Linked DNA regions of Homo sapiens: region 1 is linked to region 2. The links come from fine-mapping of genetic effects on gene expression. Tissue or cell type: fibroblasts. Region 2 holds a variant in brackets; the other region holds the start of a gene. All regions are shown on one strand. Distances are from middle to middle.

What was found. PIP is the estimated chance that this variant, and not a neighbour inherited with it, causes the effect.
Region 1: it holds the start of TRIM2, and the variant in region 2 is fine-mapped to the expression of TRIM2 in fibroblasts (GTEx, PIP above 0.99).

The regions. Positions count from the first base shown.
Region 1 is chr4:153,200,174-153,208,355 of GRCh38, reverse strand. TRIM2 (tripartite motif containing 2) reads right to left here and starts at 3,913. Exons shown (of 12, transcript NM_015271.5): 1 at 3,796-3,913. The coding sequence starts at 3,825. RefSeq lists an enhancer at 1,457-2,362.
Region 2 is chr4:153,229,022-153,237,203 of GRCh38, reverse strand. All of the region lies in intron 1 of TRIM2 (tripartite motif containing 2), which reads right to left. Among named protein-coding and RNA genes, the nearest start is that of TRIM2, 29 kb to the right of the region's middle. The variant T/C (reference allele first, on the strand shown) is at 3,343.

The sequences.
Region 1 (8,182 bases), 29 kb after region 2:
TGTGTAAAGTAACCAACTTGAATGTATCATTACCTCCTGTGAAAATAAAAAGTGTACTTTCCTTTTGAGACAAGGTCTTGCCCAGGCTGGAGTGGACTGGCACAATCATAGCTCACTGCAGCTTCCACCTCCCAGGCTCAAGTGATCCTACCGCCTCAGCCTCCTGAGTAGCTGAGACCACAGGTGTGTACCACCATGCCCAGCTAATTTTTATTTTTATTTTTTAGAGACAAAGTCTAACTATGTTGCCCAGGCTGGTCTTGAACTTTTGGCCTCAAGCGATCCTTCCACCTTGGCCTCCCAAAGTGCTGGCATTACAGGGTTCACCACTGCACCTGGCCAGAAGTGAACTTTTCAAACCACACACAAGACCCATCTATTATTCCTGGATGAGCCTTCAACATGGATAAGCATGATCAGCAAGGAGCTCAAGGGTGATTTCAAACCATGTTTAACTTACGGCTCATGAGTTCCTCCGGGGAGATTTCTGTCAGATCTAAAGTCATAGACAGAAGCTAGAATGGACTTTGAAGATCATGCCTCAGGACAGATAGAAAACCGTGACCCTGAGGGACTCCCTTTTCCAGAGCCACCTGCTGGCCAGTCCCGGATGGAGACCAGAACGCTGATGTCCAGCCCGCCCTTCTTTCCACTGCACTGCATTCTCTTAGCATTTCCTTTATCCAATGTCACCAGTAAATCAGAGAGACATTTGGTAAACTTAGATGGTATTTAGGACTGTCGTTAGATGCTGGTAGCAGTCATAATAAAATAATTAATATTCACTGAATATTTGCTGTGCACTGAGTGCTGTATAAGGAACTTTGATGCATGACCACATTTAAACCTCACAATCATCCAGTGAAACAGATTGTCATCCCATTATTTGGCTGAAGGAATACAGACTTAGGGAGATTTGGTAACTTGCCCAATAACATATAAGTAAAACAACGAAAGTGAGGCTGGACTCCAGGTTCGTCTGAATCAAAGCTCTTGCTCTTAACCCCTTGTTTTTAAACCCGTGTTCTTTGGCTTCTGCCTCTGTGTGTCGTCTGTCCCCCATCGGCCACCGCACCGCATAGGCCTACCAGTGTGGCTGGCCCTTCCTGGAATTTAGCGAATTTTACAGATAAGGGAACTGGGGCACAGAGAGGTTAGGGAACTTGCACAGAGTTACACAGTGAGTAAGTGACCTGAAGTGTGAATCATGAGGAAGGTGTGATATTGTGATTTATAATAAGAAATATATATTTGGTCTTGTCTCTGCTTCCTGGCACATAGTTCTTAAAATCCTTGCAATTGGCTGGGCATGGGGGCATGCACCTGTAATCCCAGCACTTTGGTAGGCTGAGGCGGGAGGATCTGGAGGATCGCTTGAGCCCAAGGGGTCAAGGCTGCAGTGAGCCATGATCATGCCACTGCACTCCAGCCTGGGTGACGGAGCAAGACCCTGTCTCAAATTTAAAAAAGAAAGAAAGAAAACCCCTTGGAATGTACAAAGTGATAAAGAGCCTTTTTGTATGCTAATGAGATGATTGACGACTGAGGGCTCCCAGATTGCCTCTGGAGGGGGCTGGTTGCCAGGGGAACCAAGCAAGTGATTAGAGAGTTGGAACTTTCAGCCCCTTTCTCCCTACTCCACCCATACACACCCCCTGACCCTGTTTCCAGGGAGCAAAGAGGGGCAGGAGGTTGACTCAATCACCGATGGCCAATGGTTTGATCAATCATGCCTTTGTAATGAGGCCTCCATAAAAACCCAAAGGAGCGGGTCTGGAGGGCTTCTGGATAGCTGAACACATGGAGACGCTGGGAGAGTGGCGCCCGGAGAGGACATGAAAGCTCCAAGACCCTCCCTAGCCATCTCTTCACCTGGCTGTATGTATTCATTCAACTGTATCCTTTGTAATACCCTTTATAATAAACTGGTAAATGGAATTAAGTGTCTCCCTGAGTTCCGTGAGCTATGCTAACAAAACAGTGACCCCAAGAAGTCAATCTCTGACTTACAGCACAAAGTTAGACAAAGTTACACAGCTTGTAATCTACCTGAGGAAGGATCGTGAGAACTTCTCATGGATAGCCAGCTAGTCAGAAGCACAAGTGACAACCTTCAGCCTGCAACTGGCCTCTGAGGTCGGGGCAGCCTGGTAGGACTGAGCCCTTAAACCTCAGGGTCTGCACTCACTGCAGTTAGTGTCAGAATTGAGTTAAACTGTGGGACACCTACTTAGGTGGGAAGGTGAGAATGCATTGACCTGACCAAATGGGATTTGTGAGGCCTGCGGTGGGCCTGGAGGGTGAATGATGCACACCTGTCCTTTCCCTTTGGAGCCTCCACCCCACCTGGGAGAGTCAAAAGTTCACTGGCAGAGTCAGAATTTCCATTCCTTGTCAGGACCTCCTCGTGGGGTGACTCATCCCTCTCCAGGGCTCTAGGACCGCACCAGGAGAACCTGGCCTCACTTAGAGACTGCCTGTTTTCATACAATGGGTTCAAGCATTCATGTTGCTTGGCGTCAAATTCATTTGAAAAACACCCTTTGTATTCTGACTTAATACCTCCAGGATCCGCAAACAGCATGGTGGCTTTAAACAAGGTGTACCTAGATAATAGATACAAGTTGAGGGAATTTGGAGAGGTGGGGAGACTTTCAAAGCATTAAATGTATTAAAGTCCCATGGTTCACCTCTAGCTTTATGTAAAAATTAAACCTCACCTTTTCATTTTATCAGGCTCCTGTCGATAACAAACACAAACCGCAAGTTCACTGACTCCACACCACGGGGCTCACCAGAAACTTATCTGATCAAAGCTGCCGTAGGTGATTCTTTTTTTCAGCAGGAGGAGGAGGACTTTCTAAAGCAACTCCCAGGACTCGAGATGTTGTAGCCCCCTCCCCACCTTACAGGTCGCAATGACAGCACAACCCTTTCCTTGCCCTTTGCGCACCCCGTGAGCTACGACAGGTGCCTCACTGAGCACCGAATGGGCCAGCCAAGAGATAAAGCAGGCACCAAAGACCGGTGCCTGAGTGGTTTTCCACCCTCACCCATTCACACCCCGGAAACCAGCAAGCACCCCGAGGTGTGGCTGGCTGAGCCCACATCAGGCTTCACCCCCGACTCACATGGCGTCCCCAGGCTCTGCTGACTTCTCACTTGGGTAGTCAAGGACAAACGCTCTATTCACCTGGGGCTATTTCTTCATTCCACAGTCGCACGGCAGAGGGACATAGTACCCTTTGAGCACTTTTATGGGGCAGTAAAACTTTACAGTCTCCTGTCTGCTCTAAACTGTTCCCACATTTCTGAATAGACCTATTTATAACATGCAAGACTACTACAGTTTGCCCTTTGAAAATACTAGCAGATATTAGGTCCTTTCAAATGGGGTCGACTGAGTTACATCGGCTAGCAGCTGGCTTACAGAAACCCCGGAGAGGCCCAGCTAAGCTCCTGACTGTGACTACCTATGTTAGGAAATAAAACAGCATTTGAGTCTCACAACATCACTGGAACTGGCCTTATGCTTTGCCACATTCATGTTGCTTTGGTGTCAAATCCAGCTGTGTCTCTCCCTCGATTTTTTGCTTCCTTACTCCCTTCCTGCCTGGATTAACAGAGCTCACTGTGAGCTTTGTCAGCAAATCCCAGTCTTTTCCTTCCCTCTTCTGCAGGGAAAAAATTAAAACCAGGAAAAAGTAGCAACCCAATCACAACTTGTTTCTCCCAGCCCCGGATTAACCAGCTGGCCCAGAAAAAGAATTATCCCACATTGAGAAGCGTCCTTACCTGCGTTCCATAACGGCCACTCCTGTGCATCGAAGACCAGAGCCAGCCTCCTCCAATCTGGGGACTTAGCTCCCCGCAGCCCGCAGACAACTGGGCCCATTATAGTCATCAAGCTGCCGAGTTAAAGGGTGGCCCTTACTAAAATATAAACAGCTAGTCAGCACAAGCCAAAGGGGCGGGGCTACAGTATCAGGGGACAATGAGAGCCAATGATCAGCCTCTTTGGGCTCTGTTTGCTTAAGATATTGTGTTTCATTCCGAAGTAGGGGAGACGGGAATGAGAAACACTGAAGAGTAAGGGCTGAGTTATCATCTTTACAGCCCCCAGTAGGAAAAGCGTCCAAGTTGAAAAGTTTAAATCACTGCCCACAGAAGACCAATTTCAGGAAAGTGTTTGTAGACTGCACACATAATAATATGTATTTTTAAAGCCACAGATATTTATGTTGCATTAGCTATCTGTTGTCTTCCGGGGTTAATAAATGTGGTATTCATGAGGTCAACGGGAGTTTTTCAACCAAAGAACAAAGGCCAAGAAAGTTAGTTTGATGACATGCTTATTTTATTGAATATACTATCTGATCAGGAGCACTCACCTCATCTACAGAGCAAACACTTGTTTGATTGGCACATCTTTATTTTATTTATTTATTTATTTATTTATTTATTGAGATGGAGTCTCGCTCTGTTGCCCAGGCCGGAGTGCAGTGGCACAATCTTGGCTCACTGCAACCGTAGCCTCCTGGGTTCAAGTGATTCTCCTGCCTCAGCCTCCTGAGTAGCTGGAATTACAGGAATGCACCACCACACCTGGTGAATTTTTGTATTTTTAGTAGAGACGGGGTTTCGCCATGTTGGCCAGGTGGGTCTTGAACTCCTGGCTTCAAGTGATCCGCCCGCCTTGGCCTCCCAAAGTGCTGGGATTACAGGAGTGTGCCACTGCGCCTGGTCTACTATTTTTTTTTTTTTTTTTGAGACAGAGTCTTGCTGTGTTGACCAGGCTGGAGTGCAGTAGTGTGATCTCAGCTCACTGCAAGATTGGTACATCTTTAGAACCCAGAGATATGGATTTATTGTATGCCCAAGTCAGCAAAATGGCTCACATTTGATGTGTTTATGTTCTTCTTCGTGTGTGTGTGTGTGTGTGTGTGTGTGTGTGTGTGTGTAGAGATGTGGGTCTCACTATATCACCCAAGGTGGAGTGCAGTGGCTATTCACAGGCACAATCATTGTGCACTGTAGCCTCAAACTCCTGGGCTCAGGTCATCCTCCTGCCTCAGCCTCCCTAGTAGCTGGGATTACAGGCTTGCACCTATAATCATGCCAGACCATGAGCATTTCATTTGATCAAACATATCAGAAGTTCAGTATATTTGGAAGAAGGCAGGAGAGCCGTGGCTTCTTTCTGTCTCCCAAACTTAACTAAATTCCACTTTTTTTTTTTTTTTTTTTTTTTTGAGATGGAGTCTCGCTCTGTCACCAGGCTTGAGTGCAGTGGCACAATCTTGGCTCACTGCAACCTCCACCTCCCAGGTTCAAGTGATTCTTGTGCCTCAGGCTCCTGAGTAGCTGGGACTACAGATGCGCACCACCACGACCAGCTAATTTTTGTATTTTTAGTAGAGACAGGGTTTCATCATGTTGGCCAGGCTGGTCTCAGTCTCTTGACCTCGTGATCTGCCCACCTCGGCCTCCCAAAGTGCTGGGATTACAGGTGTGAGCCACCGCGCCCGGCCTTAAATTCCCCTTTTAAAGCTATTACAGCAGCTTAACCTTCCAATGCCCTTTGATAATAACCAAGAACCAGAAAGTAAACTGTAGGGCTTTTTTTCCTTATATGATTTCTTTTTTTTTTTTTTTTTGAGACAGAGTCTCGCTCTGTCACCCAGGCTGGAGTGCAGTGGCGTGATCTCGGCTCACTGCAAGCTCCGCCTCTCGGGTTCAGGCCATTCTCCTGCCTCAGACTCCCGAGTAGCTGGGACTACAGGCGCATGCCGCCATGCCCGGCTAATTTTATTTATTTATTTATTTATTTTTTAGTAGAGTTGGGTTTCAGCCAGGATGGCTGGATCTCCTGACCTCGTGATCTGCCCGCCTTGGCCTCCCAAAGTGCTGGGATTACAGGCACGAGCCAACGCGGCTGGCCTCCTTATATCATTTCTAAATAATACACTGAAGTAAAAATAAAGTTAAGAGTTGTTTGGTTGATTGTGTGGCATTGCATAAATTATAGGCATACAAACTGTGAAAAGTACAGTCATTACATTTGAAATAGTTTCATCATTTATAAAGTGATATAGTAGTTATCAAAATGAACACAGTAGTTGTCAAAATGAATTATCAGAGAAAAATGTTGAAACGTATTTATTTTCCGCAAACTTTTTCTCAAGCCCTTCTGATTATAAAAATAATAATCCCCAAATGCCATCCTTTCTAATCTATATTAGTTTGAAAATGTTTATGATTCTGCCACTGGTGTTTAATTTGTATTAAAGTAAAATTCCTCCAGAACCTTTTCTAAATGATGTATGAGGCTCCTTCTGGCCCTTGTATCCTTCTAATTATTTCAAAAGAGCTGTTACATCCATACTTTCACAATTTTGACTTTAAGGTACAGGTTACCTTCCTGAAATAATCTAGTTTTCTTCTAAGGTGTGTGAACCCAGAAAATCTGAGACAGCTCTCAATTAACCTAGAAAGTTTATTTTTCCAAGGTTGAGGACACGCCCGTGACATAGCCTTCACAAGTGTTAGGATCCTGTCATTTTAAAAAGCTTCAGGACACCATGAGCAGCCAAAAGAAAAAAATCGATAAATTGGACTTCGTTAAAATTTTAAATTTTTTCTTTCTTTTTTTCTTTCTTTAGAGACAAAGTCCTACTCTGTCACCCAGGCTGGAGTGCAGTGGCCAGATCATAGCTTCATAGCTCACTGCAGCTTTTACCTCCCATCCTCAAGCTATCTTCCTGCTTGGGCCTCCCTAGTGCTCAGAAACCACAGCACATAACCAAAATTAAAACCTTTTGTGCTTCAAAAGACATTATCAAGAAAGTGAAAAGACAACCTATAGAATGGGAGAAAATATTTGCAAATAATATATCTGATAAGGTTCTAGTATCCAGGATATATTTTTAAAACTCCTGCAATTCAACAATAAAAAGACAAACAACCCAACCTAAAGATGGGCAAAGGTCTTAAATAGATATTTCTCTAAGAATAATACATAAATGTCCAACAAACACATGAAAAGATGCTCAACATTAGTCATTAGGGAAGTGCAAATCAAAAACACAATGAGGCTGGGCACGGTGGCTCACGCCTGTAATCCCAGCACTTTGGGAGGCCGAGTTGGGTGGATCATCTGAGGTCAAAAGTTCGAGACCAGTCTGGCCAACATGGCAAAATTCTGTCTCTACTAAAAATACAAAAATTAGCCAGGCGTGGTGGTGCATGCCTGTAATCCCAGCTACTCGGTAGGTTGAGGAAGGAGAATTGCTTGAACCCAGGAGGTGGAGGTTGCAGTGAGCTGACATCATGCCACTGCACTCCAGCCTGGGCAACGGAGCAAGACTATGTCTCAGAAGAAAAAAAACCCAAAAAACCAAATGAGACCAGGCGTGGTGGCTCATACCTGTAATCCCAGGAATTTGGGAGGCTAAGGCAGGAGGATCACTTGAGCCCAGGAGTTAGAGATTAGCCTGGGGAACATGGTGAGACCCGGTCTCTATTAAAAAATAATAACAATAATAAGGAAAAAAAAAAAGAAAAAAAACCACAATGAGGTGCCACTTTACACCTACTAGGATAGCCATATATATATATATATATATATATATTTTTTTTTCTTACTAAAAAGGAAGAAAACAAGTGTTGAGGAGGATGTGGAGAAACAAGAACCCTGGTACATTGCTGGTGGAATGTAAAATGGTTCAGCTGCTGTGGGAAACAGCTCTACAGTTCTTCAAAAAGCTAAACATAGAATTACCATATGAGCAAGCAATTCTACTTCTGGATAGATACCCAAAACAATTGAAAACGGGGGCTCAAACAAATACGTGTACATCCCATATTCATAGCAGCACTATTCACAATAGCTAAAGGATGGAAACAGCCCAAATGTCCATCAAAAGATGAATGGATAAACACATTGTGGTTATATACAGTGGAATATTTTTCAGCCATAAAAAGAAATGAAGTTCTACAACAAAGATGAATCCCTAAAACATTATGCTAAGTGAAAGAAGCCAGACACAAAAGGTTGCATATTGTATGATTATGGGCAACACAGGGAGACTCCCTTTTCTAAAACAATTTTAAAAATTAGCTGGCCGGCTGAGCACAGTGGCTCACGCCTGTAATCCCAGCACTTTGGGAGGCCGATCACTTG
Region 2 (8,182 bases):
TAGAAGAAATATATTTAAGAGTCAAAAGACAAGTTAAACCTTAATTTCCCACACCCCAACCCCCAAAAGTTAAATTAGCAAGCAGAAAGCACAACCAAATCTAGCTGATTTTCAATTCTATTTGTTTCCTCAAACACTTATGAGAAAAGACAAGCAATGTAATGTCCTTGATACTGTAAGTTTACAAAGATGTTTAAGACATAATCCTCTGGCTGTGCGAGGTGGCTCATGCATATTACATGAGCACTTTGGGAGGCCCAGGCAGGAGGATTGCTTAAGCCTAGGAGTTTGAGACCAGGCCTAGGCAACATAGTGAGACCCCCATCTCTACCAAAAATTTAAAAATTAGCCAGGTATGGTGGTACACACCTATAGTCCCAGCTACTGAGGAGGCTGAGTTGGGAGGATCTCTTGAACCCAGGAGGTCGAGGCTGCAGTGAGCTGTGATTGTACCACTGCACTCCAGCCAAGGTGACAAGAGTGAGACCCTGTCTCAAGAGAAAAGAAAAGAAAGGAAAAAGAAAAGAAAAGAAAAGAAAAGAAAAAGACACAATCCTCAGACTCAAACAACTTGCCATAAAAAAACAAGTATGTAAAGAAACTGCTGTATAAAGGACAATCTTCTCCACAAGAAAAGTCCATAGTGGGTTGCTGTGGGATGCAAAGCAGAATTGAGGACAACTACTACTGTTTGTTTAAAAAAAGTAGATCACTAAAGGTTCTAGAATTGTCATGTGGTAGCATTTGAGAGGGCTTTAGTGGGTTTGTGGGGCTAAACAGAAAGAGCCAGCATGAATAGGCATACAAGGAAATGAGGTATGGGGCACAGTGAGGGAGTAAGGAGCCTAGTTTTCCATGGTATGAGGTACAAGGTGAGGATAAGTAGAAGAAAAGGCTAGAACATGCAATAGAAGCCATGTTGGGGATGGCCTTAACTGTATCCATGCATTCCCATGCTGCTATGAAGAAATACCCGACACTGGGTAATTTATAAAGAAAAAAAAGGTTTAATTGACTCACAGTTCTGCAGGACTGGGAAGGCCTCAGTAAACTTACAATCATGGCAGAAGGCACCTCTTCACAGGGTGGCAGGAGGGAGAATGAGTGCAAGCAGGAGAAATGCGAGATGCTTATAAAACCATCAGATCTCAAGAGAACTCTCTCACAATCATGAGTACAGCATGGGGGAAACTGCCCCCATGATTTGATCCCCACCGGATCCCTCCCACGACACATGTCACATGGAGCCCTCAGGAGACTTAGAATCTAGGGGGAAAGAAGGTAATCATAGTTTAGGTGGTCAAGAATTCTGATGGAGGTGAGCACAGGATGTTGGCAGGGTCCCGGAGGAGGTGACACTTGGGTTGAGCCTTGAGGGAGGAGTAGGGCTTGGTCAAAGGAAGAAGTGTGGAAAAGGTAATCTGATCAGAAGGAATAGCTGGTGCAAAACTGCAAAGCTCTTCAACAACCTGACACATTCAGGTCTGTAAGAAGCTCTAGAAAGAGGTGAATTGAGCCTTCTTTAAAAATGAAAAAGAATCACAGCCATTTATTAACTACTCTGTATGTGCTGGGTACTATTCTATACACACAAGAATTCATTTAATTCTCTTAACTTGGCGGGGCACCATGGCTCACACCTGTAATCCCAGCACTTTGGGAGGCTGAGGCAGGTGGATCACTTAAGTTGAGGAGTTCGAGACCAGCCTGGGCAACATGGTGAAACCTCATCTCTATGAAAAATACAAAAAATTAGGCAGGCATGGTTGTGCCTGCCTGTAGTCCCAGCTACTTGGGAGGCTGAGGCAGGAGAATTCCTTGAGCTCGGGAGGTCAAGGCTGTAGTGAGCCGTGATCATGCCACTGCACTCCAACCTGGGCAACAGAGCAAGACCTTGTCTCAAAAAAAAAAAAAATTATCTTAACTCTATGAAGCAGGCACAGCTTTTCCCATTTTACAGAGGAACAAACTGACTTTGAGTGCTTCAGAAATTTGCTTCTCAGAGTCACACAGCTGTCACCAATGATTAGTGACTTCAAGCCTACATCTTTCTGACTGGAAAACCAATTTGTATTAAGCCCTGAAGGATGGGAAAGAGTGAGTCATACAACAAAAAAGTGGAACAAGCATTCAAGGCAGAGGAAACCTGAAGACATATGTGTGTTAGTGGAGGAAGACCAACTAGAAGCAGTTTGGAAGCACCACATATGAAGTACACAGCTGGGGGCAGCAGAGGGGTCTGTGTGCTCGAGGGTGGGACAGGGCACGGGGAAGGTTAAGAATTGGAGAGAGAAAGTGGCAATTAATTGAGTTCCACTTTGGACATGCTGAGTTGGAGATGCATGTAGAACAACTGCCTGGAGATGTCAAATAGCTGCTGAGTTATAGTTCTAGGCTCAGAAGAAAGGTCTGGGCATTGAATAAAAATTTGACCTATAGATCTAGGCAGGAAAACAAATCATCATCACAAGCATTGACTGTTAACCAGGCACAGCACCTAATGCTACCTATGCATTTTCTGTTTAACACTCTCAACAGCCATACAGAGTAGGTAACTTATGAGCCTCATTTTACAGACAATGACTCTAAGCCACAAGGACATTCAGTAGCCTGCCTAGGGTCATAAAGGATCTGCATACTTCTACATTCAGTTTCCAAACTTTTGTGACTGAGATCCGCAGCAGAAATGTATTTTATGTTGCAGTCCAGTAATAGATACATATATTTCACTGAAACAAAGGTTGCATGAGATCACATTTAGCCCGATGCCCTCTGCTATTTCCTATTCTATTTCATTTTTCAGTAAACTGGCTGCAACTCACTAACTTGATTCACAACCCGCTCATGAAGCCCACAGTTTGAGAATCGCTATCCAACACCTTCTTTCCTCCCACCCCTGAATCACAGTGTGACTGCAAGGATAAAGGGAGATGCAAGCAACATCATAGATGTCAAGGAGAAAACTGCACTTCTGAGTGGTTGTGAGTCTTGAGCATAAAATGATGAGAATTCAATCTCTTCTGCCAAATAATGCCCCAAGGACATGTCTGTGGAAGCTAGCTCTTCCGCAGTGACTCATTTACACCTGTCAGGAGTATTTATGGGGATTGAAGCCATTATTGCTGCCAAGCTTTCTCACTGTATGGTGCAGGAAAAGATGCAGATGCACTTAACTTTGAAGAATTTTAAAGTTGTTAGTTCTAAAATTGCTATGGTATTACATTAGAGCAGGATTTGGGCACATATCCCAAAGCAAAGCAGCCCGGTGCCTGTACTCCCCTTGCATGTAATTCCTGCAAACAGTGATTGCAACAGGAAATCATACCTCCGTGGCAGAAATTA[T/C]GCAATGCAACATTTAACATCTCTCTCAGCAGGAAATGGTTTTGCTGGCAGGAGTTTTGGAATTAACCATAAAAAGATATCATAGACCCTGAATGTATGCATCCATCCTTCCTTCTACTTCATAGGAAGAGAGGAAATGTTCCTTCCCACCAAAATTGAAGCATTCTCAGTGGCCCACCTGCCTCCCTACCACCTCCACGCCTCACTCCTTCAACCCTTTCCTCTTTAACACCATCATCTCCTCCTTTCCCATGGGTTTCTTCCTTTCTGACTTCAAATACACATTGGTTTCCTCTAAAAAAACAAAAAAGCACCTCAGCAACAAAGAATTTTGGGGGTGATATAATTGGTCCTATCTCAACAGTAGTCATGGTTACAGAACTATATTCATTTGTCAAAATTCACAGAATTGAACATCAGAAAAGGTGAATTTGACTGTAAGTAAAGTAATCAATATCTCAAAAAGAAAACCCCACAACTTTCCAATAAAAACCCCCCACACCATTTTCTAAATCCTGCCACCCTGTAATTATCATCTGACTTCCTTCCTTCCTTTCTTTGGCACTTTCTTTTCCCCATGTCCTCATTTTAGCTAAACCAAAGTCTTCTCCCAGTCGTCCCTCTTCTCCTCCCACCTTCTACTGGAAACTCTTTTTCTTTGGCTTTGGAAGTAGAGAACTTTACCATTTCTCCTCTACTTTAAATGCTTCTTATCCTTATTCTTAGCAATCTTCTAACTCCGGGAATTTGCCAAAACATCAAGCCACTGCTCTTCTCCTACATTCACTCACTCAGAGGCCGCACCCACTCTTGTGATTAGATGACTGCTGGAATGCATTTGACTTCCAAATCTATGTCTAGAGAGGGGGCAGCTGGCTTAGGTTTCCAGTGGCCCAGGGGACAGCTCCACCCGGCTCTGTCACCACCTCCAATTCAGCACCTGCAGCTCTGAGTCTCCCCCTGCTGCCTTTGCTAGCCACTCTCACTGGAGTGGCTGACCTTATCACTGGAGCTTCTCTCCCAGGGCCAGAAACCCTGAAGACACCACTCAGCCCCTAAGTCAGGTACAAAGGAGAAAGGAGACATGGGAATGTTCTGTAAACTGTTATGTTCTAGACTTAACGACACATTACCATTGCTACTACTTAAATCTTTTCAACTCTTCCTTTGAAATGTGTCTTGATTTTATCTACTTTTCTCCACCCCCGCCCCAACCTATGGCCTCTAGTTCCCTCCCTTCCTTCCAGCATATTCTGCATGCTGGGGTCAGTCCACTCTCACTAAAACACCTCTTTGCCTCTCACTGTGCTGGTCACGACTCAATTTTTTTTATTTTTGAAAATTTATTATTTATTTATTGTTTTGAGATGCAGCCTCACTCTGTCACCAGGCTGGAGCGCAGTGGCATGATCTTGGCTCACTGCAACCTCTGCCTCCCAGGTTCAAACGATTCTTCTGCCTCAGCCTGCCAAGTAGCTGGGACTACAGGCGTGCGCCACCACGACCAGCTAATTTTTGTATTTTTAGTAGAGACGGGGTTTCACCATGTTGGCCAGGCTGGTCTCGATCCATCTGCCTGCCTCGGCCTCCCAAAGTGCTGGGATTACAGGCGTCAGCCACCTCGCCTGGCTACTCATGACTCTTTAAAGGTGGCTGTTAGAGTTGAATTGTGTCCCCCTCCCTCCAAAAAGATATATTGATGTCTCCCAGTACCTCAGATTGTGACTGTATTTGGAAATACTACAAGTTGAGTATCTTTTATCCTAATGCTTGGGGCCGGAAGTATTTTTGGATTTTGGTTTTTTTTCATATTTTGGAATATGTGCAGATACTGACTGGTTGAGCATCCGCAATCCAAAAGACTGAAATCCGAAATGCTCCAATGAGCATTTCCTTTGAGCATCATGTCAGCACCCAAAATGTTTTGGACTTGGAGCATTTCAGATTTTTGGATTTGGGATGCTCAACCTGTACAGTGTAGGTCTTTAGGGAGGTAATCAAGTTAAAATGAAGTCATTAGAGTGGGCCCTAATCCAATATGACTGATGTCCTTACAAAAAGGGGGAATTTGGACACAGAGACAGGCATGGAGGGACGATTATGTGAAGACACAGAACACTATTTATAAGCCAAGGGAAGCGTGGGACAGCCGGATGCTAGGACAGAGGCATGGAGCAGATTCTCCCTCATGCCGCCACCCTTTAGAGCACCTAAGCATCAAGTCTGTATTTCTCCAATAGGCACTGAAGATCCTCTTTGATTCCACCTCCTTATTTCACCTCAATGCCCACGACTTCCTTGCCTAGACCTGCTCAGTCCCTCCTCCCATCAGATGTGTCTGGCTCCTAATCCCTGTCTGGAAAATGACTCTCCACCTTTGCTTGGGTTGTTCCCAATGCCCATTGTGCCCTTCCCACTTCCCTCTTCCATCTAAATCTTGCACATTCTTTAAGTTCTAACTTTAGTCCCTCTTCCTCAATTATATTATCCTTGATTTATTACCTTATTGTGTTCTCTCTCTTTTCTGAACCATCATTGTACTTAATGTCTGTATCATATGAGTTGACACTTGATTGTCTTGTTCACATGACTCCCTAATGGTTTCCTATGTGATATTCTTGGGTCTAGAGTTAAATTTAAAGTAAACAATCTCTATTGAAAACCACTTTTCCAGACACTTTCCTAGATTTGTTTTCTCAACAAAACATCCTTTCTTCTAGAGCTTCCCACAATTCTTGTATCCATTTATCATATGTCAACCAATCAAGTATACTTGAGCGTGTATTTTAGTGAGAAAGACATCCTAGGTGTGAGTCCTGACTCCCCCTTTACTGGAAAAGTCACTTGACTTCTTGGAAACTTAGTTTCCTCGCTTCTAAGATGTTACCTCTCAGGGACATTGTCAAGATAAGATGGAATTATTTCTGTGAAAGTGATTTTTAAACAGTAAAGCCTTGCTCAAATGAGAGGTTAAATCATTATTATGATCTCAGTTCCAAGTGAGCTCAGCTAGTTACCTGCTATGTTGATGAAATTATAGGCTTGAACCAAGTGAGCTGGTTCTTCTAGATTTGTGCCACAGGGGCCAGTAAATTTCATAACTAATAAAAATTGATAGGATGGATGGAGAAAACTACAAAGCATATCCTGGTGGGTCAACAGGGTTATCTTCATAAATAAAAGACAGATAGCATACTGTCACCTCAATCTCCCTTAAGGCATGCAGTATCCCAGATTCTCAGGAGAAACTGACAGTCCCCATATTTCCAGCTGTGGTACAATAAATCAACAAGGTAATATGTTATGCCTGAGACAAGTGTTTGTTTGGTGTGTTTTTTGTTTTTGTAACTGAATTCTACTGGTTTTGAGACTGAACATGGGCTGGGTGCAGTGGCTCATGCCTGTAATACCAGCACTTTGGGGAGGTGGAGGCAGGCAGATCGCTTGAGCCCAAGAGTTGGAGACCAGCCTGGACAGCATGTCAAAACCCTGTCCTGCAAAAAATATACAAAAAGTAGCCAGTCATGGTGGCATGCACCTGCAGTTCCAGCTACTCAGGAGGCTGAGATGGGAGGATCGCTTGAGCCCTGGAGGCAAAGGCTGCAGTGAGCCATGATCAAGCCACTGTACTCCAGCCTGGGCAGCAGAGCAAGACCTTGTCTCTTAAAAAAAAAAAAATAGTGTGGATGGCAAACGTATTGAGGCTGTAAGTACCGTAGCAGTCATCATGTGTAAAATTCAGAAAGCCAGGGCCTAGGCCCCTAGAGACTGAAAGACAGATCTAGGACACGGGCAGGGGTGTATGTGCCTTGCCTTCTTCTCTCAGGTTAGCCTGTGAACTCCTGTCCCCCTCGGCCCCCATCAATAGATAGTAGCTGAATGAACTGGCTGAATAAGGAAGATTGAAGACTAAACTCTGCAGAGGTAGAAAGACCTGGCAGTACTTGGTGAATGCATTTATCCAAGGGACTTGAACGAGAGAAAATGCTTAGAAAAAAAATCTAACGAAAGAAATGTATTTAGTTCTATCGAGATTTAGTTTTAGCATGGAGTATACTGTGTGCAATAAGCACCAAAGATGCCAAGAATATTTTGTACTGCATTACAAATGAAAACCAGCTTCCGTGCAGATGGGATTCAGAATTTCATACCCTGGCAAATCTGTCTTCCTTCTATTACAGAAACTACTTCAACTGTTCCAAGCAAATGCTTAATAATTATTTCCCCTTCTTGATGTTTAAAGGCTTTTTAACAAGAAAAATGAATTTGATTTCTAGTAGATACTGTTTAAAAATTCAGAATCTGGCCAGGTGCGATGGCTCATGCCTGTAATCCCAGCACTTTGGGAGGCCGAGGCAGGTGGATCACCTGAGGTCAGGAATTTGAGACGAGCCTGGGCAACACGGCAAAACCCTGTCTCTACCAAAAAATACAAAAATTAACCAGGCATGGGACCTGTAGTCCCAGCTACTTGGGAGGCTGAGGCAGGATAATTGTTTAAACCCGGGAGGCGGAGGTTGCAGTGAGCAGAGATCGCACCACTGCACTCCAGCCTGAGTGACAGTGTGAGACTCTGTCTCAAACAAAACAAAACAAGTCAAAACGAAACAAAAAAATTCAGAATATTTGTTTAAGTGAAACAATATATGTGGACTACAAGAAAAATGCTTATAGAGGAAATCCCTAAGAAATCGAATTTCTTTGTCCTTTAATGAAATTGTGTTAAAAATGAGTAAAATATACTTTCTTCTCCAAGGTCTGTAGCTTAAGCAGAGACTTTAGAGTAAATGTCACAAGAAAAACCAGCACTTTGCACAGGGCCCCACGTACCCTCACTCCC